Linked DNA regions of Homo sapiens. The protein of the gene in region 3 purifies or fractionates together with the protein of the main gene of each other region. This does not show direct contact. Each region holds a gene or a part of one and is shown on either strand. Other genes may lie near its edges.

Region 1 (4,243 bases), on a different chromosome or scaffold from region 3:
AAAACAAAACTTCAGTTTGTCTCATTTTGAGATATTTTCTTTACTCCTTCCATGAGCTGATCTTGATAGTGATGGCTGTTCCACTTGAAAGTGAAAGTCCCTTCCTCTTACTCATATGAGGAAAACTCTGTTCTATCACGACTGACAGGCATTTTCTTATAAATCCAAAAAGGCAGCACCTTTTAAAAAAAATATATCTACCTAAGCTTTCCCCCAACTGTACTTGCATTACATAGTAATAATTAATCTAATCTACCTGTAGGCAAACCCGCAATAAAAAAAACCCTCAGTGTGTTGTGCCAAAGCAAGGACAGAAAAACAGCAATCTTAACCCTGAAGCCTGTGATATTTGTGTCAAAGAAACAGCCTGTCTGCTCTGCATGGTTAAAGAAGCCTGGTTTATCAGGTAGCATCCCACACGATTCCACAGGGCACTCAGTCACATGGTTAACTGTTGAGGGAGGGGGAAAAAACTAATTTAAGAAATGCACTCAGTTTAAAAATACAAGAAACAAACATTAGGAGGAAAGGTAAATATACATTATCTTTACATAAAATAATTAACAATTACACAAAATTTGGAAAACAAGGAATAGGAAAAATATACTTAGTATTCTCTCCTCTTTGTTTCTACACATTTTCTTACTCAGCTATAATCTCATTTCAAATCATTTTAGATCCAGTTTACAACCTATGCTCAGGAGAAGGCTGACATAGCATTCTACAGAATTAAGTTAGCAGTAAGGTGATAATACCTGGCATAGTATGGTGGCTGAGAAAGGAAAGGATATAAGTCATTTCAAAGAATTAGGCCTGGTTACTGACAATAGGGCATGAACAAAAGGGATGAATTCAAGATGGCTTTAAGCCTGCTTGGAAGATGTAGGTGACATTGGCAGCGAGGCAAATCAGTGTTAGGTCTCAGCTTCTAATTCGAGTGGCCCTATTAATCTAGGGAGTACACTCTAGGGAAGGTGGTATGTGGTAGAATAGAGGCTTTGGAATTGGACAACATAGGCTTTAGAATTGGACAGAAATGGTTTCCAATCCATTGGCTGTGTGATTGAGCAAACTGCTTAATTTCTCTGAGCCTTATTTACTAATGTGTAAAATGAGAACTTAATGAGATGAGATTTCATTATTTCTCTCCAAGAAAGAGTTAACTGCCTGGTGCGGTGGCTCATGCCTGTAATCGCAGCACTTTGGGAGGCCCAGGAAGGTGCATCACCTGAGGTCAGGAGTTCAAGACCAGCCTGGCCAACATGTTAAACTCCATCTCTACTAAAAATACAAAAATTAGCAGGCCGTGGTGGCATGTGCCTGTAATTCCAGCTACTCAGGAGGCTGAGGTGGGAGAATAGCTTGAACCTGGGAGGCAGAGGTTGCAGTGAGCTGAGATTGCGCCACTGCACTCTGGCCTGGGTGACAGAGCGAGACTCTGTCTCAAAATGAATGAATGAATGAATGAATGAATGAATGAATGAATGGTTATGCCTTATAATTGTTTATCATGGCATAAAACATATTTTTGGAAAAAAGTCCATCAAAAATAGTTAAACAGCCAGGCATGGTGGCTCACGCCTGTAATCCCAGCACTTTGGGAGGCTGGGGCATGCAGATCATTTGAGGTCAGGAGTTTGAGATCAGCCTGGCCAACATGATGAAACCCTCTCTCTACTAAAAATACAAAAATTAGCCAGGCGTGGCATGCGTCTGTAATCCCCGCTACTTGGGAGGCTGAGGCTGGAGAATTGCTTGAACTTGGGAGGTGGAGGTTGCAGTGAGCTGAGATAGCGCCACCACTGCACTCCAGCCTGGGTGACAGAGTGAGACTCTGTCTCAAAAAACAAAAAAAAAAAGGGGGTCATGAGTTCACATCCTTTGAAGGGACATGGATGAAGCTGGAAACCATCATTCTCAGCAAACTAACACAGGAATAGAAAACCAAACACCACAGGTTCTCACTCGTAAGTGGGAGTTGAACAATGAGAAAACATGGACACAGGGAGGGGAACGTCACGCACCAGGGCCTGTCGAGGGATGGGGGGCTAGGGCAGGGATAGCATTAGGAGAAATACCTAATGTAGATGATGGGTTGATGGGTGCAGCAAACCACCATGGCACGTGTATACCCATGTAACAAACCTGCATGTTCTGCACATATATCCCAGAACTTAAAGTATAATAATTAAAAAAACATAGTCACTGATAATACCAAATAATTTTGTATGTTGGGATAGTATGGGAAGTTAACAAAAAAGGGAAAAACAATTTTGGTTTTTGTAGAAAAACTATGCCAACACAGTTAAAAAACAGAAAAGATGATGAAAAGTTTTATATGAATTTCTGCATTAAAAAAATTAAGTTGGTTAAAGCATTAAGGGCTAAAACTATGCCATGTACAGCAACTTATGACAATAAAATTAGACACAGAACTAAATAAATATAATATTGCATGTATTATTATTATTAAACTCTAACAAGAATAAGTTAAACTAATTTATAAAGTCACTGCAATTCACATACAAATACCTAAAAATGATGCCCTCTGTGGTGAAAAGCACAATTAGATTTCTGATTTTAATAGCTGTTATCCAATCATTTTCACATTGTTAAAAACGTTAGCATTTCAAATCCTTACCTAGTTTTTCCAGATGTATTTTTGACCACTTTCCGGAAAGACTGATTTGCAGTGGATCTTGTAGAAAGCGTTCGAGGGGAAGCACGAACAAAACCAGATGGTGGATTCTTAGGGATTTTCTTTACTAAATGAGTTACCCATTTTTTTTGTTCATCCTGAGAACATGCTAACAGCAGCATATCTCTTGCTGATGTTACATCATAACTTACTATGTTAAGGAGGAAAAAAAAAGCATAATTAAAGCCATATAGTTTTTTAAAATCCAACCTATCAAATGCATAGTTTTTCAAGTTCTTAAGGTTTTAAAAGTTTTAATATGCTTAATTAAGCATGAACAATATCTCATTCTCCTTAAGTTAAATAAGGCTGAAATTAAAAAAAAAAATTAGTCAAACTAATAAAGTAAAATCAGAAATATAACAAAATGTAAAACAAATAAATGTATTTAAAGAACATAAGCTTCTTATCTGAAAATAGCTATGGTCTGTATTCTTTCCCTCAAGCTACCTCTGTAAAACTAGAAGATATTCTGTGATACAGCATGCATGCTGATCCAGGCAGTGAATGCCAGACAAAAAGAAGAGGAAAAACTCAAGGGAGGAATAGAGTGGAACTCACCTGTTGCTCTTCTCTCCAACTTGGAATAATTTCTTAGCAGCATGTTTGTTTGTTTTTGTTTGTTTACAAGGGGGTGATTCTCTTTAAAAACACTGTTGGCCGGGCGTGCAATGGCTCACACCTGTAATCCCAGCACTTTGGGAGGCCGAGGTGGGTGGATCACCTGATGTCAGGAGTTCGAAACCAGCCTGGACAACATGGTGAAACTCCATCTCTACTAAAAATACAAAATTAGCCGGGTGTGGTGGCACACGCCTATAGTCCCAGCTACTCAGGAGGCTGAGATAGGAGAATCACTTGAACCTGGGAGGCAGAGGCTGCAGTGAGCTGAGATCACGCCACTGCACTCCAGCCTGGGCGAGACAGAGTGAGAATCCATCTCAATCAATCAGTCAATCAATAAAAATAAATAAAAACATTTTTAAAAGCTAAATCTGTAAATAGCTGCATATTGCCCCACCAGTGTCAAAATAATACTTTCTATAATCTCTTTTCAACTTGGTATAGAAATCACTACACATAAGTTAGTTCATTGAGACTTAAAATTAAATTTGTTATAAGTTGTAACAATAATTACCATGCCTTACCTTTACATGGACAAATTAAGTCCTCTTTCTTATCTAAGTGATCTCTGTGGCACTTAACATGGCATCTTCGACACTCTAGGGCAGGGGGTGGCTTAAAAACATGCCAGAGAGGTTTGGCACAGGCATCACAATTGGCAGGAAAGTGGTAGAGTGTAGGAATAAACTCATGGCCTTTGTGATTTTGGAAATTAGTTTTTTCAGCTTGTTGTACTGGTTCCATCTCTACATCTTTTCTACATTCACCTTCATTTGCATATAGTATCTACATTCAGGAATGGTGAAAGGAAAAGATTTTAAAAATCTTAAGCATTGGTATATTTTACATTTACTTCACAAAAACGCTTAGGACTTAGATTCTTTAAAATTATAACTTCAGATTTTTACCTGGAATATTTTA
Region 2 (2,921 bases), about 20 Mb from region 3:
AACTCATAGCTGCAGGTAAGAACAGAAGCATTCAACTGGCTAAGCATGTAGATGGGCATTTTTGTGACATGCAAACTTTCAAAGAGAGGGTTTAATATGCCATCTTTCACGGCAATCCAATAAGATAGGGAAATAACAATACTATTGAATATGGCTAACCTTCAGTTCAATGTCTGTATCTAATTTTTAAAAAAATTATGTCATGGCTAAATTTTTCTAATATTCAAGCCAAGACTAAGCAGTTTATTTGTACTGATAATGCGATTTTTCAGCTATTACAAGCACTTAGTTAAAAGATCAACTAAGGCATCCTTAAAAAGTTTTAATACTTTTTCTCATTGTGCAGATTTCTTAAACTTACAGGACTGGAAACCGTGGTCCAGTTTAATATTTTAAACATAAATCTTTATGGTTTTATTTTTTACCAGGTGGCTATAACAGAGAGGAATGTCTTCGAACAGTCGAATGCTATAATCCACATACAGATCACTGGTCCTTTCTTGCTCCCATGAGAACACCAAGAGCCCGATTTCAAATGGCTGTACTCATGGTAAGCGCATTATGTTGCAGGAGCAACCCCTATTTAGCTTTTTCCTCGTAACTTCAGGATGTTAGAAATTCTCATCTCTCACTTTTGGCATAGGGCCAGCTCTATGTGGTAGGTGGATCAAATGGCCACTCAGATGACCTGAGTTGTGGAGAGATGTATGATTCAAACATAGATGACTGGATTCCTGTTCCAGAATTGAGAACTAACCGTTGTAATGCAGGTAATAATAGTTTTCTCCTGAGATATCCAGTATTTAAATATGATAATTAAATTATCAATATGTAACTTTATTTTATACTTACATAGGAGTGTGTGCTCTGAATGGAAAGTTATACATCGTTGGTGGCTCTGATCCATATGGTCAAAAAGGACTGAAAAATTGTGATGTATTTGATCCTGTAACAAAGTTGTGGACAAGCTGTGCCCCTCTTAACATTCGTAAGTTGATTTTTTTTCCTTTTTTTTTTTAAAGACCTTCAAATCAACAGTATGTGTAGTATACACTTAGAGTCTGGGAGATGTAGCAATAATCTTGACTTGACTTTTCTTGTAGGGAGACACCAGTCTGCAGTCTGTGAGCTTGGTGGTTATTTGTACATAATCGGAGGTGCAGAATCTTGGAATTGTCTGAACACAGTAGAACGATACAATCCTGAAAATAATACCTGGACTTTAATTGCACCCATGAATGTGGCTAGGCGAGGAGCTGGAGTGGCTGTTCTTAATGGTGAGTGTTGGGATTTGGAGAGGTGAAGAGTAGATAGTGGCAAGACTTTGTTCTAAAACTCTGAGAGAAAAGGCCAATGACTATAGTTGTACAGTTAAGAATTCAGAAGCAGTCATCTCTTTTGATGCAATGGAGATTAGGGTGATTTGTCCTTTAGAAATATATTTTCTAATCAAAGACTTATAATACTTGATATATAACTTAATTCACCAGTCTTTTGATGGGTGCACTGAGTGAATTTCCAAGTCATTTTCTTCTATAAAACATATCCTTAATGCATCATCTTGAATTTTGAGTTTCCCCTTCTTTACAGCCAGAATTTAAAGAATCTGATCTGCAAAACAAAGGCAAATCCCTAGTCTTTTCCAACTGTCTACTCCATACCTAATTGGAAATACAACCTTTAGACTATTTTAACAAGTTTCCAAAGTATTAAACTTTTTAAATGTAGACATAGCTTTCTTTCCACCTCCATTTTATTGACTTTTAATGTCTAATTATATAATCATAATTTAAAAGTTAGCATTGTTTTTGGTACCAGGCTGAACCTTAGCAGGCTTATGGCTCAACTGGTGAAGGCTTAAGTGTAGACACAGCCTGTTGGCCTAGAGCATTGTCAGCGTGCTTTACAGATACATAGAATGCAAGCTGGTTAAGTGATGGTCAAATGAAAAAATAATGAATTTGAGAATCAGTAATAAAATTTTTTCTAAGCTACGGAGTATTTATTGCTAACATTTTATCTATTTGAAAATAATCATAACTCTGTTTCCAGAAGAAATTTCTGTACCACAATCATTTTATTTTTTTAATTGAGACATGGTCTCACTGTGTTGCCCAGGCTGGTCTCGAACCCCTGGGCTCATGCAGTCCTCCCACCTCAGGCTCCCATAGTATTGGGATTATAGGCATGAGCCACCGCATCTGGCCCCAAAATCATTTTATACAGTTGGAAAGCCCTAAGATATTTTTCTGCTTTCCTATAATCTCTTCTGAGTCTTAATTCTGTACATTGGGCTGATATAAAGTCCAGTGCACAGAACTATTCTGGTTTGCTACTTAGTAGCTGCATCTGTAGGATAATTGTCCAGCTTCTTCCTGCTTTTCTTCTTCTCTGAAATAATAATAGTAACTACCACAGAGTTGGTGAAAATTGTACTTATTTAGATGCTGCTACTGCTTCCTCTCCCTCCCCCTTTTAAGTTGCCTAAGTTCCACGTGGGAATGGTTTTTTTATTGATTTGATTCCCAGCTCTTAGAGAGTATTTGTCATATTAGGCATTTAATAAATTCTTTTTGACAAAATGAACAGGCATTTCTATTTTTAAAACCACTGATTTTTAAGCAAAAGACAGATTTAGGGGAGTTTTACCTTATTACACTTTAATCTCTGGATTTACCCCATCTCATTTCTCTTTTAGGAAAACTGTTTGTATGTGGTGGCTTTGATGGTTCTCATGCCATCAGTTGTGTGGAAATGTATGATCCAACTAGAAATGAATGGAAGATGATGGGAAATATGACTTCACCAAGGAGCAATGCTGGGATTGCAACTGTAGGGAACACCATTTATGCAGTGGGAGGATTCGATGGCAATGAATTTCTGAATACGGTGGAAGTCTATAACCTTGAGTCAAATGAATG
Region 3 (4,243 bases):
CTGGGCTCAAGCGGTCCTCCCACCTCAGCCTCCCAAGTAGCTCTAGGGGCCACAGGCACGTGCTACCATGCCTAACTTAATTTTTTTTATTTCTAGTACAGACAAGGTCTCCTTAGGTTGTCCAGGCTGGTCTCAAACTCCTGAGCTCAAGCAATCTTCCTGCCTCGGCCTACCAAAGCGCTGGGATTACAGGCATGACACACACACTGCCTGGCCCATTTTTTTTTTTTAAATAGAGAATTTCTAGTGACAAAAACTTGGGGTAGGCTCTAAATCTCCTACAGTATTGAACAATTCTTGGTCTAACTCAAATGTATGTAATAGTAAATAATGAAAATGAAACTTTGCTATATTTATTCAAGCTGTTTGCCAGCTAGAAAATTAATATTTGGAAATTCAAAAATAAATCTAAAGAATATTCATTGGGCAGGGCACAATGGCTCATGCCTGTAATCCCAACACTTTGGGAGGCCAAGGTGGGCGGATCACCTGAGGTCAGGAGTTGGAGACCAGTCTGGACAACATGGTCAAACCCTGTCTCACTAAAAACACAAAAATCAACCAGACGTGGTGTTGCACACCTGTAATCTTAGCTACTCCGGAGGCTGAGGCAGGAGAATCGCTTGAACCTGGAAGGTGCAGGTTGCAGTGAGCTGAGATTATGCCACTGCACTCCAGCCTGGGTGACATGGTGAGGACTCCATCTCAAAAAAATAAAAAAAGAATATTCATTAAATAGAAGTTTTATAATGATTAAACTGAATAGTGGGACCCTGCCTTTTTGCCTCTTTCTTCATTTAACATGCTCCAACTACAGAAGACAGATATTTATAAAATTACCTGGAAAAGTGTGTTAGCACCTTGCAGTCTGGCTGGACTTAGGGGAGCAACAGGACTGAGAGTACTCCAGAAGTGGATACTGGAGAGCAAGGGGCTTGGAGTCAGTATGATGGGTGTCTGCAATACACAAAGCAAAAATATTCACTGACTGACTTACCAGGATGTTTTATCCTTGAAACAGCACACAAATAACCCAAACCTAAATATTGCCCTATCCTCCACTCCAAATATCTCCAAGTCTGAAATATTATCATGACAAAACTCAAAAATTATTTTTACAAACTAAGAGGGATAAAGGTGATAATAACTACTTAAAATTTTTTAAATTTTTATTTCAATAGTTTTTGGGGGTACAAGTGGTTTTTGGTTACATGGATGAGTTCTTTGGTGGTAAATTCTGAGATTCTGGTGCTCAACCTCTTTTTAAGCCAACATTTATAAAGTCTTTTCCAAATAGAAAAACCAACCTGAATTCAGGTACAGAGGAATAATGGGTAACCAAGACACCAGCATGTTTGTTTTTTTTTAATAATGAGGTGTGTGAAAAATCTACTAAAATGTTCTATGAGATGAGCAAGTTAATAAATAGCTAAAGTAACTGTACCAACTTGTTACTCAACATCACACCAGTCATTTTTCTTATGGTTCTCAGGACCTACTGTTTTCTAACTTGAGATTATCACTGTTTGTTTTATAAGACACCAACGAGTTTTATAAGACCGAGAGAGAGCGAGAGAGTGTGTGTACTTTCTTTAGGAGGAAATAGAAAAATCAAAATATTTATTTACTTGTAGAACAATGAATTTTTTAAGAAAATACTCCAAACTTTCTATTTTAGCAATCCTAATTAAGATGAGAAATGGGGTAACTTTCACATGACAGTCACACATAACCTTTCTAAGACAAACCTAAGTAACAGAAAGCAAACTTGAGTGTATAAATTCTGGATTTGCTTAAAAGGGCAAATAAATGAAAGCAATGGTGACACCATAAAGAGCGAGCAAGCTACCTGTGAAAAAAATGCTGGTGTAAGAGAAGCTGTAGGGAGAGATGGGCTCAGTATTCCCAGTGGGCTTGGATCACTGCTCGTGATCACAAGGGTGGGTGCCAGTTCTAACCCTTTGGGTTTCTTGGATCTTGATGAATTATTTACTTTGTCCTTTTCTAGCAAGACTGAATCCTGGTCTTTAGGCTCCAGTGACAAATTCTCTGGAAGTTCCATTGGCTGAGAAGCCACTGAATCAATGTCTGTGTCGATGTCTGGGTGAGAACTCAGTGGTGGTGAAGGTGTTCTGGGAGGTTCCTGCAAAGGGGGTATGGACGAAATGGGTGGTGTGGTGGCAAAAGCAGTCATTACGTTAGAGGCAGAGGTTGGGGCTTCCAGGGAAGGCAGTTTTGGGGAAACCAATGTCTCCAAAGCTTGGATAGTTTCTTCTGAAGATGGAGAAATACTTGGGCCAATTGAAATGGTGGCAGCAACAGGTTCAACCGGTGGCTTTTTGGAAGGTGTCGTGACAAATTTGATGACAGATGGTGTGGGCTCCTGAGGAGATTTTTTCTCTGCCAGTTTCTCGGCTGGATTCTCAGTCTTTATCAATTTGAAAAGCTTTACATTGGAGGAGTTCAAAGAGTTGAGAGTAAATGAAGAATATAAGCCAGAGTGTATGTAGTCATTGCGGCTAGAGGTCTTGGCACCAGGCTGAGGTGGTTTATCTTTCCCTCCATTCTCCACATCTTTGGAACTGCTGCTGACTTCACTGAAGTTTAAACTTTCACAGTCACCCTCAATCCTGCCCACTGTCATTGGATCCATGTTCAAAATCTCTGGATAAGAGACAAACTTGTACACAAACTTCTGACCATTCACTTTTTTGATGATATTCTGTAGGTTAAAAAAAAAAGCATTTTTATCCTTTCTTATAAACTTATATCCCATAGTTCATGAAAAAGCTGGCATCGGCCAGGCACAGTGGCTCATGCCTGTAATCCCAGCACTTTGGAAGGCCGAGGAGGGCGGATCACGAGGTCAGGAGATTGAGACCAGCCTGGCCAACATGGTGAAACCCCGTCTCCACTAAAACAGAAAAAATTTGCAGGGCATGGTGGCGTGCGCCTGTAGTCCCAGCTACTCAGGAGGCCGAGGCAGGTGAATCCCTTGAACCCGGGAGGCGGAGGTTGCAGTGAGCCAAGATCACACCACTGCACTCCAGCCTGGTGACAGAGCAAGAGTCTGTCTTAAAAAAAAAAAAAAAAAAAAAAAAAAGAAAAAGCTGGTAATGAGGTTCTCCATTTTAGAAGTAGACATCACTTACTTAAAACTTTCAAAATCACCTAAATTCATCTAGCCATACCAAACACAGTCCCTACTATTATGGAGAAGTTAAGGCAAGAACATTTAAATGTCTTATTAACAACTGAACTAATATGTTACATAAAAACTGAAGGATTTTAATTGCTTACCACTCTCAACCAAATATCTGTGCAGATTAGAACTCCCTGAACTGCAGTCTCAAACAATTCCAAAGGTATAAGCCATACACATCCTGAGTAAGCAAAAAGGAATTTATTTACTTATTTTTTTGAGATGGAGTCTCACTCTGTCACCCAGGCTGGAGTGCAGTGGTGTGATCTCAGCTCACTGCAACCTCTGCCTCCTGGGTTCAAGCAATTCTCCTGCCTCAGCCTCCCAAGTAGGTGGGATTATAGGCACACATCACCATGCCCAGCTAATTTTGTATTTTTAGTAGAGATGGGGTTTTGCCATGTTGGCCAGGCTGGTCTTGAACTCCTGACCTCAACTGATCCACCCACCCCGGCCTCCCAAAGTGTTGGGATTACAGGCGTGAGCCACCGCGCCCGGCTGTGAAAAAGGAATTTAGAACATAGTATCTGTTAAGGTTCTTACTTCCTTCAGAAATTCCAGTTTATCTCCAGACAGGAAAGCTGGTAAGATCAACCACTTAATGGTGAAAGAGCCCTGCACAGTGGCTCACGCCTGTAATCCCAGCACTCTGGGAGGCCAAGGCAGGTGGACTGCCTGAGGTCAGGAGTTCAAGACCAGCCTCCCGTAGAGATGGTGAAACCCCATCTCTACCAAAAATACAAAAATTAGCCAGGTGTGGTGGTGCATGTCTGTAGTCCCAGCTACTCGGGAGGCTGAGGCAGGTGAATCACTTGAACCTGGGAGGCAGAAGTTGCAGTGAGCTGAGATCACGCCACTGTGTTCCAGCCTGGGCAACAGAGCAAGACTCCGTCTCAAACAAACAAACAAAAAAAAGTGAAAGAAATTAAGATCTCAGCAATTTTAACTAAAAAACCAACTCTGTGTATAAACAGCTACTACTTAAGGTATAAGGTTTTAATTTGTGTTCCCTGGGTTAAACTAAAACTAAAAATTAAGATA
Region 4 (4,243 bases), on a different chromosome or scaffold from region 3:
TCCTGGGTTCATGCCATTCTCCTGCCTCAGCCTCCCAAGTAGCTGGGACTACAGGTGCCCGCCAACACGCCCGGCTAATTTTTTGTATTTTTAGTAGAGACGTGGTTTCACCGTGTTAGTCAGGATGGTCTCGATCTCCTGACCTCGTGATCCGCCCACCTCGGCCTCCCAAAGTGCTAGGATTACAGGCGTGAGCCACCGCGCCCGGCCGGAGGCCCGTCTTAAGGAGGGATTTCACCCTCACCCCTCACAGCCCCTCAGAGGAGGCTCGTCTTAAGGAGGGATTTCACCCTCACCCCTCACAGCTCCTCGGAGGAGGCCCATCTTAAAGAGGGATTTCACACATGCTGTCAGGCAGGGTCAGCCCCGAGGTCTGACCAGGTGGCAGCCTCACTGTGCCCGCCACATGTGCGTGGATCGAAGCTACCCAGATGCAGTCAGGGGTCACGGCTGTGCAGGCTGAGTCCATCTGGGCGGCACAGGCCTCCATTCTGCATCCCAGCATGGTGCAGAGCACAACCCTCTCGGCCACACCTCGGCGCTGCCGAGACCTTCCCCTGCTTTGCTCTCCTCCCCAGCACTGGTACAATCCAATGCCCCGCACCTCCCAGCCAGTTCTGTCTCTGCACTCTAGAACACAGGCCCCACGGGGGTCGGGATGCCTGCCACCTCCTCGTGCCTGGCTTGGCACGCAGCGGGTTCCGAGATGAGCCGACCCTCTTTCAGGTTTGGTAGGGCAGGTTTGCAGGCCCTACCAGAGAATGCATGTTTCTACAAGTGTGGGGAAGGACTGGGACCTGGCCTCCACCACCAGGAAGAGCAGCCCCCACGGCTGACAGGACACACCCCTACCCCAGGCGAGACACAGCGCTCACTCACCTCCAGGGAACATGGTGAGCGCCTGCTGTATCAGGAGAGAGGCCTTCTGCCTGGCAGAGCTCTGCTCACACTCAGGGAGGTCTGTCTGCTGGCTCAGCAGGAAATACGCCAGTGGAACAGAGAAGGCAAAATTAGGGAGCTGGGACAGGTTCCGATGAGCCTACGAGGGACGAAGAAACAGAGCGTGGAGCCTTAAGTCATAAAGACAAAATATGTGAGTTTGCAGACGCTCTGACATCACCAGTGAGCCCTACCCCGAGCAGGTATATTCTGCAGGCAACGCAAGGGCCTCTTCCTAACTCAGCATAAAGATAACTTAAAACGTCCACCTGGGGGGCTTTCCGCATGCAGAAGATACAGAGGACGTGGGAGGGCCTGAGAAGTAGACTGAGCCGGAGCGAGGACACCGTGGGGAGTGAGGGTCCCACCTGCCGCCCAGGCTCCTCTCTGAAGCTGAGCAGTTGGTGCTCTCAATGTGGAAAATTTACAGACGAGAGCAGCCCACCCCCGCGCGAGTCTGTGAGAGCAGCCCACTGCCGCGCGAGTTTCCGAGAGCAGCCCGCCACGCGAGTTTCCGAGCAGTCTACCACCGTGCCAGTTTCTCTTGCCTTTCTCAGCCTATGTCACATATTGTAGACATGTGACTCACTGCATTTTTTTCTATCAAAATGGGATCACAGACTCACAGTTTTGTGACCTTAAACACCATCATCAACATTCTTCTGCAGCCCCATTTTGGGGGACTCCCTGAGGTTTCCCTGCACCTACATTTTTGTGAGCTCCAGGAATTTCTATAAACCACATTCCTGGGGGTGAGACTTCCTGGCCAACTATGCCAAATGCTTAAAAATTCAAAATAATTTACCCACTTTCATTATCCATGAACATGTGCTATGAAAAAAATTCAACACAGAAGCAGAGAAAGTCAAGAGCTGTCGCCTTCTCCCCAGCCCCAGGCCCTGCTGGAGGTTAGCGTTACAAAGCCCGTGTCCTTCCAGATAAGTGCTGCCCCATAGGAACATAATGGGAGCCCAGGTGTCAATTTAAATTTTCTTTTTTTTTTTTTGAGACGGAGTTTCACTCTGGTTGCCCAGACTGGAGTGCAATGGCGCGATCTCGGCTCACCGCAACCTCCACCTCCCAGGTTCAAGCGATTCTCCTGCCTCAGCCTCCCGAGTAGCTGGGATTACAGGCATGCACCACCACGCCCAGCTAATTTTGTATTTTTAGTAGAGACAGGGTTTCTCCATGTTGAGGCTGGTATCAAACTCCTGACCTCAGGTGATCCGCCCGCCTCGGCCTCCCAAAGTGCTGGGATTACAGGCGTGAGCCACCATGCCCGGCCCAATTTAAATTTTCTGGGAGCTGCATTAAAGACAAAACAGGTGAGATTAATACGTTATATCTAACCCAATACACCGAAATTATCATTCCAACACGTGTCTGTGTTAGAGTTACTGGGGACAGAGCTCAAGTCTCTCCTGCTGTACTCACACTCTTCCCATGGAACAGGACAGACGTGCTGGGGGTCCCTGTGTCAGCCCCACGCAACCAACCCTCCTTCTACCTCCCGGCTGCATCTTCCTGAACTGCCCATGAGGAGCTCGGGAGTTGTCGGTTTTTCATCATTACCAGCATCACAGTCCTTGCAGGCACACGTGTGCATGTGTACACACGTTTGAGCATGTGTACACACGTATGAGGATTCTGACATAAGGCTGCTGTACTGTCCCTAGGAAAACCACATTCCACTCCGTAGAGGCGGCAAGGGAGACAAACAAGGCAGGAGGACGTGGTTCTGCCCTCAGACGATTATCGTTTCATCCCCAAACGTCCCCTGAGCGCACAGATACTGAACCAAGAAAACAGAAGGAGAAGCAGGTGTCCGTCCCTCCACGGGGCCTCACCAGGCTCGCACCCACCTCCCACTCCTGGAAGAGGCGGATCAGGTACTCGTAGTTCCGGGCCCGCAAGGCCAGGTGGTCGATGAGCAGCAGCATGCAGAGGGGGTCCTCATCCGGCTCGAGACTTCCGGAGGCAGCACAGAGAGCAGAGCAAAGGGGAACAGGGGCATCGTCAGGCTGAGAGTGGGCCTGCAGCCAGGACAGGGAGCGTGGACGGGCTTGGCCCTGAGCAGACACTCACCTCAGGATGAGCTTGCAGTACTCCAGCGCCGTGCGCGGGCAGCCTCGCTTCTCCAGGAAGCTCATCTGCTTGTAGAGGGCCAGGTAGAAGCTCCTAGATCCAAAATAGTTCCACATGAATTACAACGACACAAAGGAGAATGCTCTCTGCTCAGCGCCCCGGCCAGCACCCACTCCACCCCGCCCTCTGCTCAGCGTCCTGGCCAGTACCACCCATTCCACCCCACACACTGCTCAGCGCCCCAGTCAACACCCGCTCCACCCCACACACTGCTCAGCGCCCCAGTCAACACCCGCTCCACCCCACACACTGCTCAGCGCCCCAGTCAGCACCCGCTCCACCCCACACACTGCTTAGCGCCCCGGTCAGCACCCGCTCCACCCCCATTCTGCTCTCTGGGTTCTGCTGGCATTTTCTACGTGCCCAGCACACAGAGATCCATGTCTGGAGAGGAGGTGTGCGCTCTCCTTGTCCTTTACAGAGTTATACACGAATTTGCATACTGAAAATCAAACTTCTTTGAAATCTTTTTTTTTTTTTTGAGACGGAGTCTCGCTCTGTCACCCAGGCTGGAGTGCAGTGGCGCTATCTCGGCTCGGCTCATTGCAAGCTCCGCCTCCTGGGTTCATGCCATTCTCCTGCCTCAGCCTCTCCAAGTAGCTGAGACTACAGGCACCCGCCACCACACCCAGCTGATTTTTTGTATTTTTAGTAGAGACGGGGTTTCACCGTGGTCTCGATCTCCTGATCTTGTGATCCACCTGCCTCGGTCTCCCAAAGTGCTGAGATTACAAGCGTGAGCCACCACGCCCCGCTGAAATCTTTATCTTGTTTTTTTGTTTATTATTTATCATTTACAGGAAGAGAGTTAAAATCTCTTGTTACAATTACGATCTTAATTTATCCTCCAATCTCAACAGTGGCTAACAGCACTCAGGCTGGATACATGGAGCCCTGTGACTTTCGGATGCTGGTGGGCTGCTACTTCCATCAACAGCCCACTGTCTCTTTCGCGTCGGGAAATATTAATATTTTATAATCTACTTCAAAGAACTAAGAATTTCATTGGAAGAGACAAAACTAACATAAAGAAAACCAGTGGAGGAAATTCAGACCCAGCACACAGTGCAGACAATCTGTGCAGAACGGGTCAGCGGACCTTGGCTTGCCAGGAGGGCTGAGAGGGTAGGAGCGGATCCCACACTGCAGACAACCCAGG
Region 5 (4,243 bases), on a different chromosome or scaffold from region 3:
CCCTGGCCACCAGAGGCTTTCTCCTGCCTGACATCCATGAAGCGGCAGAACAGGCCAGGGGCAGGTGGTTTCCCCAGAGGCAGCTGCTCCAGTCAGGTGGACACACTGTTAAGGGCTGGAAACTCAGGGTTTTGTAGGTGTGGGATCTAGAATCCCCATCCAATTCTTATTCCTGCCCAGAGGCAAAAACAGAAGACAAGGCGGGTAGAGACAGCAAGTAACCCTAGGTTCTGCTCAGGAGCAAAGCTTCGGGCTAACCCAGCACCACTCTGGCTCTGGCCTCCACCATACACCTACCTTCACTATCCCACTGTTCTGCCTTCAAACGATTCTCATGTCAGGCAAAGGCTTATACAGAAATAGAATCTTCTATAGTTACAGTCCAGCAGCTTTCCCTTTGGGTGCACCTGAGACACCAGTGGATGGGTTTTAGAGGCTGCAGAGTGAACACACAAACCAGTGCACTTCCTGACCAGCCACAGGCCTCCTTCATACCTCGGGTCCAGCAGCTGAGAGAGGGGAGGGCAGGAGGCCAGGCCAGCTCCTGAGCGCCAGCCTCATTCCTACCCAGCACTCCTGACTGCTCACCAGCTTTTCCCATGGGCAGGGGAGCATCCTGCCTTCTCAAGCAAGACACTTACAGACAACTGTTAGGGAGCTCATCCGGGAAGCTGAAAGGGAGAGAGGAGTCTGTGTGCAGGACAGCCCGCTCCTGAATACTGCCACAGCCCGTTACCATCTGCCAGCTGCCATAGTCTGTGGAGAGAGAGGATCCGGGCAGGGGATGGTCCACTGATCTGGGGCAGAGAGGAGAGAGAGGGGAGAGGATGCAGTCAGTCATATGCCTGACACAGGCTCTGGAGGGGGCTAGGGGACTAGCGCAGCCCTGGCTGCTAGGTTCTGTTGTCAATCACTGTCTCCAAAAGTCTAAAAAAAAAAGCTGGACAAGTAGTGACCGAGAAAAAAGAATAGATCACCAGGTAAGCTCAGCTGTGAGGACAGTATTTTGTGCAGACTTACTGTGGAAGCAAAAAATGAGAACAAAGCATGGCAGTAAGAGTGAATCGGAGCCACAGCCTGGGGCCAGGGCATGCCTGCGCTGGGAGTGAACACGGCAAGGACAATCTCAACAGCACCAAAGGAAGGCAGCAAGGCTAGCACCCAAATGAAGGTGACCCAGCAGCCAGCCGGGTCACCCATACTTGCTGGCATGCAGATTTGCAGGGTGGGCAACACAGAACCCAGGAGTCCCATCAGAAGAGACAGTACGGGCCTCTTGGGGATTGTGGAGGGTATGACCTAGACTCAAGAGTGATGGAATGGGAGCCCTGAGGTCCCCCCTTTCTCTGCAGTGCCTTCCAGGTGCCATAGTTTGTATTCAGAAGCATCAGCCCAGCAGACTCAGTGGCTATGCCCAGAGGGAAGGGATGAATCAGGCAGGCAGCCTGACAGCTTCCTCAGGCCTTCTTCAGATGGAGGTTTTGGGGGTGGGAGGAAGAAGGTTGTGCTGGGAATCTACCGCTTCCACCTCCTCCCCACTCACAGCCAACCCCCCTCTTCTGTCCTGGGCAGTAGTCCAGCCAGTGTGGGTCGGGGAGGCAATAGGGAGACATCAAACAAGGCCCTTCCACCTGCTACCCCAGGTCCCAGTCCCCAGGACATCATCTTTGATGCTTGACCCTTTATTCTTTCATCCAAAAACAGCAGGAGGTACTCCAGTAGGGATCCAGAAACAGGAATGAAGAGCAGGGATTGGGGGTGGAGAAAAATGTTCACTGCCCTTGGCTCCCCCAGCTGGCTGATGTCAAGGGCTCCTAGTCTGAGGTGACAGCCCGACTGGTCACCGTGCTAGTCTTATCCCCAAGCAGCTGCCACTGGAGTGCAGCCAGCCAGGCACTGCAACTCTGGCAATCCTTAACCATCCCCATCTGTAAGACAGGTGAAGACACCTGCTTGAGGTATCACAGCTAGACAGTGTGAGAAGAGGTTTCTGTTTTTGTTTTTCCCTGCTCTTGTCGCCCAGGCTGGAGTGCAGTGGCGTGATCTCAGCTCACTGCAACCTCTGCCTCCTGGGTTCAAGCAATTCTCCTCAGCCTCCCAACTGTAATCCCAAGTAGCTGGGATTACAGACGCCCGCCACCATGCCCGGCTAATTTTTTTGTGTCTATTTTTAGTAGAGATAGGGTTTCACCATGTTGGCCAGGCTGGTCTTGAACTCCTGATCTCTGGTGATCCGCCTGCCTCAGCCTCCCAAAGTGCTGGGATTACAGGCGTGAGCCAGTGCGCCCGGCTGAGAAGAGATTTTTAAAACCAAGAATGATTACACATTTGTCCTGAAACAGAACCACCTTGGGACCAGGGAAAACAGATGGTTTTCTATGTTAAGGCTGCCATAAATCGGAACCCCCTACAACATACAGACTTGTCACATTCATCATTCCTGCTAAACTCTAGAAGGTGCGTGATGGCAGCATTAGGGATGAGAACGGGATATGGTCTGTCACCTGACGGAAGCCCCTAGGGCCCGACAGAGCAGGGCTTCCTTGTTTCTAGATGGAGAAACTTGGGCTCAGGCAGTCTGTAAATCAAAGAGACAGCTCCCCAGGAGCAGCCTGCCCTGTGCCCCCTCCAGGTCACACCAGGCCTTCAGCCGGCACAACCCTGAGATGCATCCTAGCTCCACAAATCTCGTCTATTGTTCAAGCTGCAGGGTAGAATCTTTTCCAGTTCTAGCAGCTTGTGGGAAAACAACAGCTAAAAACCAGAATGTTGAGGGAATGGAAGGGATGCTGACTAGGTTGAGGCACAGCTGGGGCTGGGAGCATGGGGAAGTTTCTCAGGCCCCAAAACCACTCCCCAAGAGCCAAAGAGTAACACTGGCAAGGGAAACATGACCAATGGGATGGAGTTACTGACTGGCTCCCCTCAAGGATTCCAGGTCCCCTGGGCTTGTCACTTCCCTTTACTTCCCCCATGTCTCAGTAGGTAACACCGGCCAAGAACCGCACTTGCAGCAGCTGTCGGATGGATTAGGCAGCACAGACAGCAGCAGGGTGTGTGATCCCAGGGGACAGAAGCATCTCTCAGCAAGCAGCCATCTTCTGCAGACTCTGGGATTTTTCAAGAGTGAGCACACTGGCTACAAAGGAGTCTTCCTACGTGAGGCCTTTGTCAAAGGAAGGGCTACAAAGTGACCATTCAGCTCCTGGGGTTGAGAGCAAAGGGCCATGCTAAGCAGGAAGGTGTTCACAAATACCACCATGGATTAGCTGGCTGCAGGGGACACCTACAGTGCATCATGTCACCGGGAGTAAGGACCTGTGCCCACATACTGAGAAGGGAGGAAAAGCCTTCCAGTCAGTCTAAGAACACAGGTAACTTAACCAGCTTCAACAAGAGCCCAAAGTCTTTTGCCCTGAGCAGCAAACAGAGGGATCCAAGCTCCACCCCCTCTGCTCTCCCACTACAGGACTGGAGAGAACATGGGACCAAGCAACCCTCAAACTGGATGGTGGCGGAGCTGAACAACGCTTCAGAGGTCACCTGTCCACATCCCAGCGGCTCAGACCTCTGCCTAGGAGGGTGGGAGCTCAGCAACATTTCACTTCCTTAGTTGGATGCGGCTCAGGGCCCTCTTCACAGCACCCAGAGCTGCAGTTCCTACCGGCTCCCAACTCCCCCGATGCCCTGCTGATGGCCAACTCAGAGCAGGTGTCTTTTAGCTAGTCCTTTCTGGAAGGGGGTACAAGAATACTCACACAAACCGAGCTGGCTCAACCCAGGCAAGAATACACAGGTCGGGATGGAGGCCTGGCCTTTTACGCAGCTGCCTAGTGCCATGACAGAGCCTACAGGCTCTCGGACAAATGACTAAGGCCAAGTCCTTAACCACAGCTACAGTTTACTGAGCATTCGTGAAAAGGTATCTACTATGAGTATTTACTCCATCCATCCCAGTCCATCCCAGTCCATCCCAATCCATCCATCCATCCATCCATCCATCCAATCTATCTATCTAATCTATCTTTTGTATTGGCAAGGTCTCACTATGGTGCTCAGCCTAGTCTTGAATTCCTGGGTTCAAACGATTCTCTGACCTTGGCCTCCCAAAGTGCTGGATTACAGACATGAGCCACCATGCCCAACCCATTATTTCATTTTAACCCAAACTTACGGGAGGGGGGCCTGAATCATTTTTCCCCCTTTAAAAACAGGATAAAATAACTGAGCTCAGAAAGGAAGT
Region 6 (4,243 bases), on a different chromosome or scaffold from region 3:
GCACTGGGCTTCTCTCCCTGCCCTCCCCTCCCCTCCTGCACTGGGCTTCTCTCCCTGCCCCTCCCCTCCCCTCCCACACTAGCCTTCTCTCCCTGCCCTCCCCTCCCACACTGGGCTTCTCTCCCTGCCCCTCCCCTCCCGCACTGGCACTGGGCTTCTCTCCCTGCCCCTCACCTCCAGCACCGGGTTGCTCTGTAGCAGCCGGTCCCGCACGGCACCTCCGCGCTCGGGGGCTGGGCAGGTCTCTGCATAGAACTGCAGCAGCCTCTTGGTGGCCTCGGTCTTGCCTGCCCCGCTCTCCCCAGAGATCATCACAGCCTGGTCCCGACGCTCCGTGCGCAGTGCTCGGTACACAGTGTCCGCCACGGCAAACCTGGGGCGGAGGCTCGTCAGGGAGTTTGGGGAGGGGGGCCAAGCAGAGCCCCACGAGAGTCCCGCTCCCACATCTGGGTGGAGTCCTCTTGTGGGAGTCGAATACACCCTTGAGGATGGGGACTGGGGGTCCCTCACAGGTGTGGGCCATGGGAGATCCGTCATAGCTGAGAATGGGCGTCACCGCCAGCGGGAGGACTGAGAGGCTCTCACAGGTGGGAGGCTGGAGGTCACTTAGGTGGAGGCTGGAGTCACTCACGGGTAGGGCTGGGGGGGGTCTTTGCAGGTGGGGTTCAGAGGTCACTAAGATTGGGGGGCCACTCCCAGTTGGGGAATAAGTCATGGGTGTGAGTCGGGGTAGGGACTGAGTCCCACCCACATGGAGCTGAGTTGCGACATTCATCTCTGGTCACTGGGGGGCAAGAGACTGTGGGATTCCTCACAGATGTGGCGCGGGACGCCAGGATCATTTCAGAGTAAGGTAAGGGTTGGGCGGGGTCACCTCAGATGGAGACAGAGGGGTCGCTCCCGGAGGGGCTGGGGTCACTCACAGGTGAGGGGGCACTTCATAGAAGCTGACGCCACGGTAACGCTCCATATGCTGCCGGCTGTAGATCTGCAGGTCCCGGTAGGGATTGACAGAGACCAGGACGGGGCCAATGTAGGTCTGGGATCGGGGGAAGAGGGTCCAAAGTTTATCCCGGGCCAGGTGCGATGGCTCATGCCTGTAATCCCAGCACTTTGGGAGGCCAAGGTGGGCGGATCACCTGAGGTCGGGAGTTCAAGACCAACCTGACCAACATGGAGAAATCCGTCTCTACTAAAAATACAAAATTAGCCGGGCGTGGTGGCGGGTGCCTGTAATCCCAGCTACTCGGGAGGCTGAGGCAGGAGAATCGCTTGAACCCGGGGGGAGGAGGTTACAGTGAGCTGAGATCGCGCCACTGCACTCCAGCCTGGGCAACAAGAGTGAAACTGTCTCAAAAAAAAAAAAAAAGTTTATCCCGGTGACCCTTGGTGTCTCTTTCCCCTCCGCTTGCCTGTGTCTGTGACCCCAGCACCCCTGCCATCTCCCCACAAGGGCCTCACGTAGATGAGATTCTCCCGAAATCGCCGCCGCAGGTTCTCGATGAAGGCGGCCTCGCTGGTGAAGTTCTCCAGCAGCACGAAATCCTGCACCCCCACCCGGTCACGGGCGGTGAGCGCACTCTCCATGGTCACCCGAACCCCGTCACTGCCCAGGGCCTGCAGAGAATGGGCCACAGAAGAGGGTCAGAGTCATCGGGGGCGGGGCAAGGCCACTTCCCTGCGCCTGTGGGACTGAGAGGGAACGTAGGGGCTTGTGGACTCCGGGCTAGACACGGGACATGAGCATGACGGGTGCGGGGGGCCTGGGTGCTGAGGGCCTGGGTGTGGTGGGCCGGGTGCGGAAAGCCGGGTGTGGAGGGCCCGGGTCCCAGTGTGGCAGCAGAGGGATCACCGAGGCTGCGGGCACAGAACAGAGACAACATGAACCACTTGGGACTCGGACACAGGGCATGGACGCAGGCAGGACCAGAGGGCAGAACCCGGGAGGTGCTGGTTTTGGGTGGAGAAAGGGGGGGTCACAAGAAGGAACTCCTTGAAATAGCAGAAAGACTGCTCTGTTGAGCTTGGACCAATCCCCTCCTCTCTCTGGTTCCTTCCTCCTAAAGGAGGAGGAGTTGAGTTAGACCAGGTGACCTCAGGTCCCTCAGCTCTGAGCCACGTGTGACAGGTGCTTTGGAGGACAAATGGCTCAGGGTCAATTCTGCAGGCAGGGTGGGGCCGTCTCTCCCACCCAGACCCACCCCCACCTCCACCGGTAGAGCGTCGAGCACCAAGCAAGAGGTTACTCCCAGACTACACCAGAGGGGTTCCCCCAGAGGGCCTCCCACCCCAGCTGGGCTCAGCCACCCACTCCAGAACGCGGGGGAGGCCCTCCCTCGCATGGCTGGGGCCACTCCCTTTCCTCCAGCTGCTGGGCTCCCCAGGCACCTCCTCCACTGAGAGTCCTGAGAAGCCTCAGGGGATGGGGGCTTTACCATGGAAAGCCCAGCTGCCTCTGGGTCCTACTGGAGGGTGGAGGGTGGTGCAGGCTGAGCAAGACCCTCGCCCCACAACCAGGGCTGAGATGGATCCCTCTTCAAACAGGGTCTCAGGGCTCCAAAAAATGGACACCCAGAGTATCCAGGGTCAGAGAAGAACAAGGTGGTGGTGATTGGGGGTGGATCCCAAAGGGGCCGCCGGTGTCCTCTGACCACGAAAGGCCCAGATTTCTGGCCGGGGGCCTGCCCCTCCCAGGCTTGTCCTCACCGCCCCGCTCCAATCCCGCGCCGAAGCGGCTGCCAAATCCGGCCGCGGTCCCCGCCCCCTCGCCCTCGGGTCAGGGGTCTCCGCGTTCTCAGGCGTCCCCGGCGGCTCCTCATCCGGCCCCGGGTCCGAGCGTCCCGCGCCGCCCTCCCCGCCTCGGCCTCCTCCCCCTGCAACTTCCCGGGACGTTTTTCCACCCGGAATTCCTGGGCCGCGCCCGCTTCCTGGCGAGGCCGAGGCGACGCCGCGAGGTGGGGAGGGACGCCCGGGACCCCCCGCCCTGCCCCGCCGCCCCCAGGCTCACCGACGCCCGGTAGCGCATCCTGCCCGGCCGGCCTGGCGCCCGCTCCGCTGCCCGCGCTCCGGGTCCCGGGCTCGGCGGCGGTGGCGGCGGCGTCAGCGAGGGAGGGCCCGCCCCCCGCACCGCCCCCACCCGGGCCCCTGAAGCGCGGGGCTTCCCCGGCCTCCCCCGCCTCCCGCGCGGCCGGGCTGGGGTCCCCTCCAGGTGGGGTTGGTGGAGGTGGGGGTGTCGGGGCGGGGGGTCCGCGGGCCGGGGGCGGGGGCGGGCTCCGCCTGAGTCAGGTTTTCCAGGAGGGACGCCGTTGGCACCAGGGTGGAGCCCGGAACCCGCGCGGCCGCCGCGTCTACACCGACCCGGAACTCACTTCCGGGCCTGGGACTACACTCCGCGGCGGGCCTGGGCGCTGGGCGGGCACCGAGGCCTGCGGGTCCCAGAGGAAGCGGGATTTTCCTCCCCCAACCCCCGAACTCGAGTCCCGGGAAAGTTAAAAATAGAACCAATGTCCAAATACGGCCGGCGCGCCCGGCGGGCGGAGCGTTCTCCGTGCGGGACGCCGTCCACCCACACGCGCCGGGGCCTGGTCCGAGCCTCGAACCCAGGAAGATCTTGGTTTTCCTCGTCAGCACGGAGCTCGCGCCCCAGGGACAGGGACGGCCAACGGGTGCCCTGGCCGAGCGCGCGGAGTACCCGGCCCCTCTGGAGGGCTCAGTTCCCCCTCTGGGAAATTCGCGTCCCCCCCGCCCACGGCATTTGGGGCCCACAGCCTCTCCCCACCCGGGACACCCCACTCGCCTCTGGGCCCGGACCTCCTCCCTCCCTCCTTTTTTTTTCTGTTTTTTTTTTGAGACGGGGTCTTGCGCTGGCTCCCAGGTTGGAGTTCAGTGGCGCGATCTCGGCTCACTGCAACCTCTGCCTCCCGGGTTCTAGCGATTTTCCTGTCTCAGCCTCCCGAGTAGCTGGGATTACAGGCGTGCGCCACCACACTCGGCTAATTTTTGTATTTTTAGTAGAGACGGGGTTTTACCATGTTGGCCAAGCTGGTCTGGAACTCCTGACCTCAGGTGATCCACCCGCCTCGGCCTCCCAAAGTGCTGGGATTCCAGGCGTGAGCCATCGCGCCCGGCCCATCTCCCTCCCTGCTTTGAAGGGGGCCTCCCTAGTCCCTCCGGATCTCCGGGACGCCCCCCACCTCCGAAGCGGCCTCGGCAGAACCTCCCTCGCTTGGCTCTGCGGGCACCA
Region 7 (4,243 bases), on a different chromosome or scaffold from region 3:
GCAACTATGATTTTATAACCAAGAATATTATGTGTCATGTTTAGTTTAAAGCATTCATTCATTTGCAGAAATGCGAAACCTTGCTCTTGTCAGTCAACTCCAGATGCTGGTGTGAAATGGCCCCAAATAGTGACGGCCATTGGAGGTGGGAAAGGTACATGCCAAGAGAAAGGCTTAGGAAATAGCATTTAATAAATACTAGCCTAAGGGCAAAAGCACATTGAATAAGAAAACTCTGTCATTAGGCCGGGCACAGTGGCTCAAACCTGTAATCCCAACACTTTGGGAGGCCAAGGGGGGCAGATCACAAGGTCAAGAGATCGAGACCATCCTGGCCAACATGGTGAAACCCTGTCTCTACTAAAAATACAAAAATTAGCTGGGCGTGGTGGCGGGTGCCTGTAATCCCAGCTACTCGGGAGGCTGAGACATGAGAATCACTTGAACCCGGGAGGTGGAGGTTGCAGTGAGCTGAGATCGCGCCACTGCACTCCAGCCTGGGCAACAGAGCAAAACGGTCGAAGAAAAGAAAAAAAAGTAAGAACTCTGTCATTAACTTGCTAGGCAAGTCATTTGCATTTCTCTGAGCCTGAATTTCATCCAAAAAGTTAAGGGAGTATATTAGTCTCTTGTTCCCAAACTCAAGACTAATGGATACACATTAGAAATACATGGGAAGCTTGTTTAAAATGCAAATGCTCTGAGTCCTAAACTAGGAAAAAGCAGTTCAGTAGGTTTTAGGGTGTGTGTTTTAAATATGTGCTCTATAATCATACAGAATCTATATGATTGGTTGTAATTGATGTGATTATGATTAATCCTTTCTTAGTAAGATATGCAGGATTTCCTATCTTACTAGAAATTAGTATCTTTCTGGGTCACATTTATTTCACTAATTCTCCAGTTCCTTTTTTTTTTTTCTTTTTTTTTGAGATGGAGTCTTGCTCTGTCGCCAGGCTGGAGTGCAGTGATGCGATCTTGACTCACTGCAACCTCTGCCTCCTGGGTTCAAGCGATTCTTCTGCCTCAGCCTCCCGAGTAGCTGGGACTACAGGCTCCCGCCACCACGCCCCGCTAATTTTTTTTTTTTTGTATTTTAGTAGAGTTGGGGTTTCACTGTGTTGGCCAGGATGCTCTCCATCTCCTGACCTCATGATCCACCCACCTCAGCCTCCCAAAGGGCTGGGATTACAGGCGTTAGCCACCTCGCTTGGCCCTTTAGTTCTTTTTATCTTAAACTCCTCTCATAAATTACATGTGCTTGAATCATATTTTCCCAGCCTTTGTTCCTTGCATTCTGATTCTCTAAGCTCTAAGTTTTTTTTTTTTCTCTTTGGCATACCTCTGTAAGTCTCTTTAAAAATGACCATCAGGGCTGGGCGCGGTGGCTCACACCTGTAATCCCAGCACTTTGGGAGGCTGAGGCGGGCGGATCACGAGGTCAGGAGATCAAGACCATTCTGGCTAACACGGTGAAACCCCGTCTTTACTAAAAAAAATACAAAAAAATTAGCCAGGTGTGGTGGCGGGCGCCTGTAGTCCCAGCTACTCAGGAGGCTGAGGCAGGAGAATGGGGTGAACCCAAGAGGCAGAGCTTGCAGTGAGCCGAGATGGCACCACTGCAGTCCAGCCTGGGCGACAGAGCAAGACTCCGTCTCAAAAAAAAAAAAATGACCATCAGGACCGGGCATAGTGGCTCACATCTGTAACCCCAGCATTTTTTTTTTTTGTGATGGAGTCTCACCCTGTCACCTAGGCTGGAGTGCGATGCTGTGATCTTGGCTCACTGCAACCTCCACCTCCCAGGTTCAAATGATTCTCCTGCCTCAACCTCCTGAGTAGCTGGGATTATAGGCGCCTGCCACCACGCCTTGCTAATTTTTGTATTTTTAGTAGAGACGGGGTTTCACCATATTGGCCAGGCTGGACTCAAACTCCTGACCTCGTGATCCGCCCACCTCGGCCTCCCAAAGTGCTGGGATTACAGGCGTGAGCCACCGTGCCCAGCCACAATCCCAGCATTTTGAATGGCCAAGACAGGAGGATCACTTGAGCCCAGGAGTTTCAGACCAGCCTGGGCAACATCGTAAGACCCCATCTCAAAAAAACAAAAATTAGCAGGGTGTGGTGGCAAGTGCCTGTAGTCCCAGCTGCTTAGTAGGCTGAGGTGGGAGGATCGCTTGGGCCTGAGAGGGCAAGGGTGTCCAGTCTGGGCAACAAAACAAGTCCCAGTCTCAGAAAAAAAAGTTGACCCTTAGCTCATTGTTGATGAGATTAGATTACCTTAAAAATAACCTTAAAAATTCATTCCCGGTGAGGCGCGGAGGGAGCACTTTGGGAGGCCAAGGTGCGTGGATCTCGAGGTCAGGAGATCGAGGCAAGGCTTTTCTAGGATGCTCACTGTATAATCAGAATTTTTCAACCATAATTGGAAATAAATTTGTCAACCATAATTGGAAATTAAAATTGAATTGCAATATTCAGATTTTCAATATGCTTCATTTTTTTAAAGTCAAATAATGACATTAAAAGGGTATTTTATTTTCTAGAAGAATCAAAAGAACCTGTTGCTGATGAAGAAGAGGAAGACAGTGATGATGATGTTGAACCTATTACTGAATTTAGATTTGTGCCTAGTGATAAATCAGCGTGTGAGTGTTCTACAGTATTGATTCTTCCCCTTTTACATACCAAGCATTCCCAATTGACACACACACACATACACACACACACACACCTCTCACCTTTACCACCATTACCTCCATTCTATTGCTTTTTCTTTATTTTAGCATTGGTAATATCATTAAGGACCAAATACCTATTAATATCAAAGGTTGTGAATGTAGTGAGAATATTGTAGACACTCTGTCATCTGGGTATATTTTGTGAGTGGACTCTGGTTAGTTTTACTGATTGGTGCTGTTGACTTAATCTCACCTGCTGGATGGCAGAGGAGTTATGGCAGTTTTAAAGTGGAAGATCTCAGGATGGCTGGAAAGAGCCCTATCAGCTGAGAGCAGTCTTCACCCTTCACCCTGATGCCAGCAGTCTTACCAGGACTCTGACCCTTTTTTCTTGGAAAATCCCACGAGCCATGAAGAGATTGCAATGATCTCTCATAATGAACTCTTATTATTTTATGACTTGTCTTTTGCTTCAACCGCTTTCAAGATTGATCTTACAATTTGGCAGATTTTGTAAATACTGTGGCGTTTTGTGTACCCATTAAATTTATTTGCACTGATGGTTACTTTTATTACAAAAAAAGATTGGTTACAGTTTAATTTCCTTGTTCAGTGGAGGCAATGTTCACTGCAATGTGCGAATGCCAGGCCTTGCATCCAGATCCTGAGGATGAGGATTCAGATGACTACGATGGAGAAGAATATGATGTGGAAGCACATGGTTAGTGAAATGGATTTTAAAGTGGGTTTTTTGTTTGTTTAGTGTTTCATTTTAAGCATTTATTTGTATTAAGGGTAGAGGATTATAGTTCTTTATATGACTGTAAAGTATGCAGTATGGTAAAATTATTATTATTATTTTTGAGATGGAGTTTTCGCTTTTGTTGCCCAGGCTGGAGTGCAATGGCGTGGTCTCGGCTCACTGCAACCTCTGCCTCCTAGGTTCAAGCGATTCTCCTGCCTCAGCCTTCCAAGTAGCTGGGATTACAGGCATGCGCCACCACGCCAGGCTAATTTTGTATTTTTAGTAGAGATGGGGTTTCTCCATGTTGGTCAGGCTGGTCTTGAACTCCCGACCTCAGGTGATCCGCCTGCCTCGGCCTCCCAAAGTGCTGGGATTACAGGTGTGAGCCACTGTGCCTGGCTGGTAAGATTATTATTAAAATAGAATGACACGGTAGAACACTTTATGCCAAAGCCCTTTGCAACAGACAAATTTTTGAGTGTAAGAAATAGAGATTGTTATGGGGAAGAATGGGTAAGTAGAGCATATGGGAGGAAAGAAAATGGTAGATAGGGAAGTGGATGGTCAGGAAAGTCTTTTAAGCTGAGGCAGCTGCCCCCAGAGAACAAGCTTCTCTCTCTACACCTTGAGAACCTGGATCATTTATATTGTTTTATTATTACTATTATTATTTTGCAACAGGGTCTCACTCTGATGCCCAGGCTGGTGTGCAGTGGTGTGATTTCTGCTCACTGCAACCTCTGCCTGCTGGACTCAAATGATTCTCCCAGCTCAGCCTCTTGAGTACCTGGGACTACAGGCTTGCGCCACCATG

Evidence for each region.
Region 1: the proteins of ELK4 (region 3) and ROCK1 purify together in Homo sapiens (affinity purification with mass spectrometry; one large-scale study listed by BioGRID and IntAct). This does not show direct contact.
Region 2: the proteins of ELK4 (region 3) and IVNS1ABP purify together in Homo sapiens (affinity purification with mass spectrometry; one large-scale study listed by BioGRID and IntAct). This does not show direct contact.
Region 4: the proteins of ELK4 (region 3) and TCF25 purify together in Homo sapiens (affinity purification with mass spectrometry; one large-scale study listed by BioGRID and IntAct). This does not show direct contact.
Region 5: the proteins of ELK4 (region 3) and MTMR14 purify together in Homo sapiens (affinity purification with mass spectrometry; one large-scale study listed by BioGRID and IntAct). This does not show direct contact.
Region 6: the proteins of ELK4 (region 3) and MYO1C purify together in Homo sapiens (affinity purification with mass spectrometry; one large-scale study listed by BioGRID and IntAct). This does not show direct contact.
Region 7: the proteins of ELK4 (region 3) and CLNS1A purify together in Homo sapiens (affinity purification with mass spectrometry; one large-scale study listed by BioGRID and IntAct). This does not show direct contact.

What each region holds. Positions count from the first base shown.
Region 1 is NC_000018.10:20,950,937-20,955,179, forward strand, and holds part of ROCK1 (rho-associated protein kinase 1), read right to left. Parts: coding exon 4,231-4,243; intron 4,109-4,230; coding exon 3,847-4,108; intron 2,850-3,846; coding exon 2,642-2,849; intron 452-2,641; coding exon 448-451; 3' UTR 1-447. UniProt on the Homo sapiens protein: Protein kinase which is a key regulator of the actin cytoskeleton and cell polarity.
Region 2 is NC_000001.11:185,298,066-185,300,986, reverse strand, and holds part of IVNS1ABP (influenza virus NS1A-binding protein), read left to right. Parts: coding exon 1-15; intron 16-428; coding exon 429-550; intron 551-643; coding exon 644-770; intron 771-856; coding exon 857-988; intron 989-1,103; coding exon 1,104-1,277; intron 1,278-2,698; coding exon 2,699-2,921. UniProt on the Homo sapiens protein: Involved in many cell functions, including pre-mRNA splicing, the aryl hydrocarbon receptor (AHR) pathway, F-actin organization and protein ubiquitination.
Region 3 is NC_000001.11:205,618,117-205,622,359, forward strand, and holds part of ELK4 (ETS domain-containing protein Elk-4), read right to left. Parts: intron 2,723-4,243; coding exon 1,850-2,722; coding exon of another isoform or gene 1,712-1,849; exon of another isoform or gene 1,152-1,711; intron 958-1,151; coding exon 841-957; intron 1-840. UniProt on the Homo sapiens protein: Involved in both transcriptional activation and repression. Interaction with SIRT7 leads to recruitment and stabilization of SIRT7 at promoters, followed by deacetylation of histone H3 at 'Lys-18' (H3K18Ac) and subsequent transcription repression.
Region 4 is NC_000016.10:89,897,431-89,901,673, reverse strand, and holds part of TCF25 (ribosome quality control complex subunit TCF25), read right to left. Parts: intron 3,118-4,243; coding exon 3,025-3,117; intron 2,908-3,024; coding exon 2,802-2,907; intron 1,040-2,801; coding exon 880-1,039; intron 1-879. UniProt on the Homo sapiens protein: Component of the ribosome quality control complex (RQC), a ribosome-associated complex that mediates ubiquitination and extraction of incompletely synthesized nascent chains for proteasomal degradation.
Region 5 is NC_000003.12:9,694,265-9,698,507, reverse strand, and holds part of MTMR14 (phosphatidylinositol-3,5-bisphosphate 3-phosphatase MTMR14), read right to left. Parts: exon of another isoform or gene 2,983-4,243; intron 798-2,982; coding exon 642-797; exon of another isoform or gene 298-641; intron 173-297; exon of another isoform or gene 1-172. UniProt on the Homo sapiens protein: Lipid phosphatase that specifically dephosphorylates the D-3 position of phosphatidylinositol 3-phosphate and phosphatidylinositol 3,5-bisphosphate, generating phosphatidylinositol and phosphatidylinositol 5-phosphate.
Region 6 is NC_000017.11:1,482,687-1,486,929, forward strand, and holds part of MYO1C (unconventional myosin-Ic), read right to left. Parts: intron 3,446-4,243; exon of another isoform or gene 3,369-3,445; intron 3,075-3,368; exon of another isoform or gene 3,026-3,074; coding exon of another isoform or gene 3,008-3,025; intron 2,889-3,007; exon of another isoform or gene 2,439-2,888; coding exon of another isoform or gene 2,436-2,438; intron 1,618-2,435; coding exon 1,462-1,617; intron 1,040-1,461; coding exon 924-1,039; intron 374-923; coding exon 175-373; intron 1-174.
Region 7 is NC_000011.10:77,624,125-77,628,367, reverse strand, and holds part of CLNS1A (methylosome subunit pICln), read left to right. Parts: intron 1-2,549; coding exon 2,550-2,651; intron 2,652-3,297; coding exon 3,298-3,405; intron 3,406-4,243. UniProt on the Homo sapiens protein: Involved in both the assembly of spliceosomal snRNPs and the methylation of Sm proteins.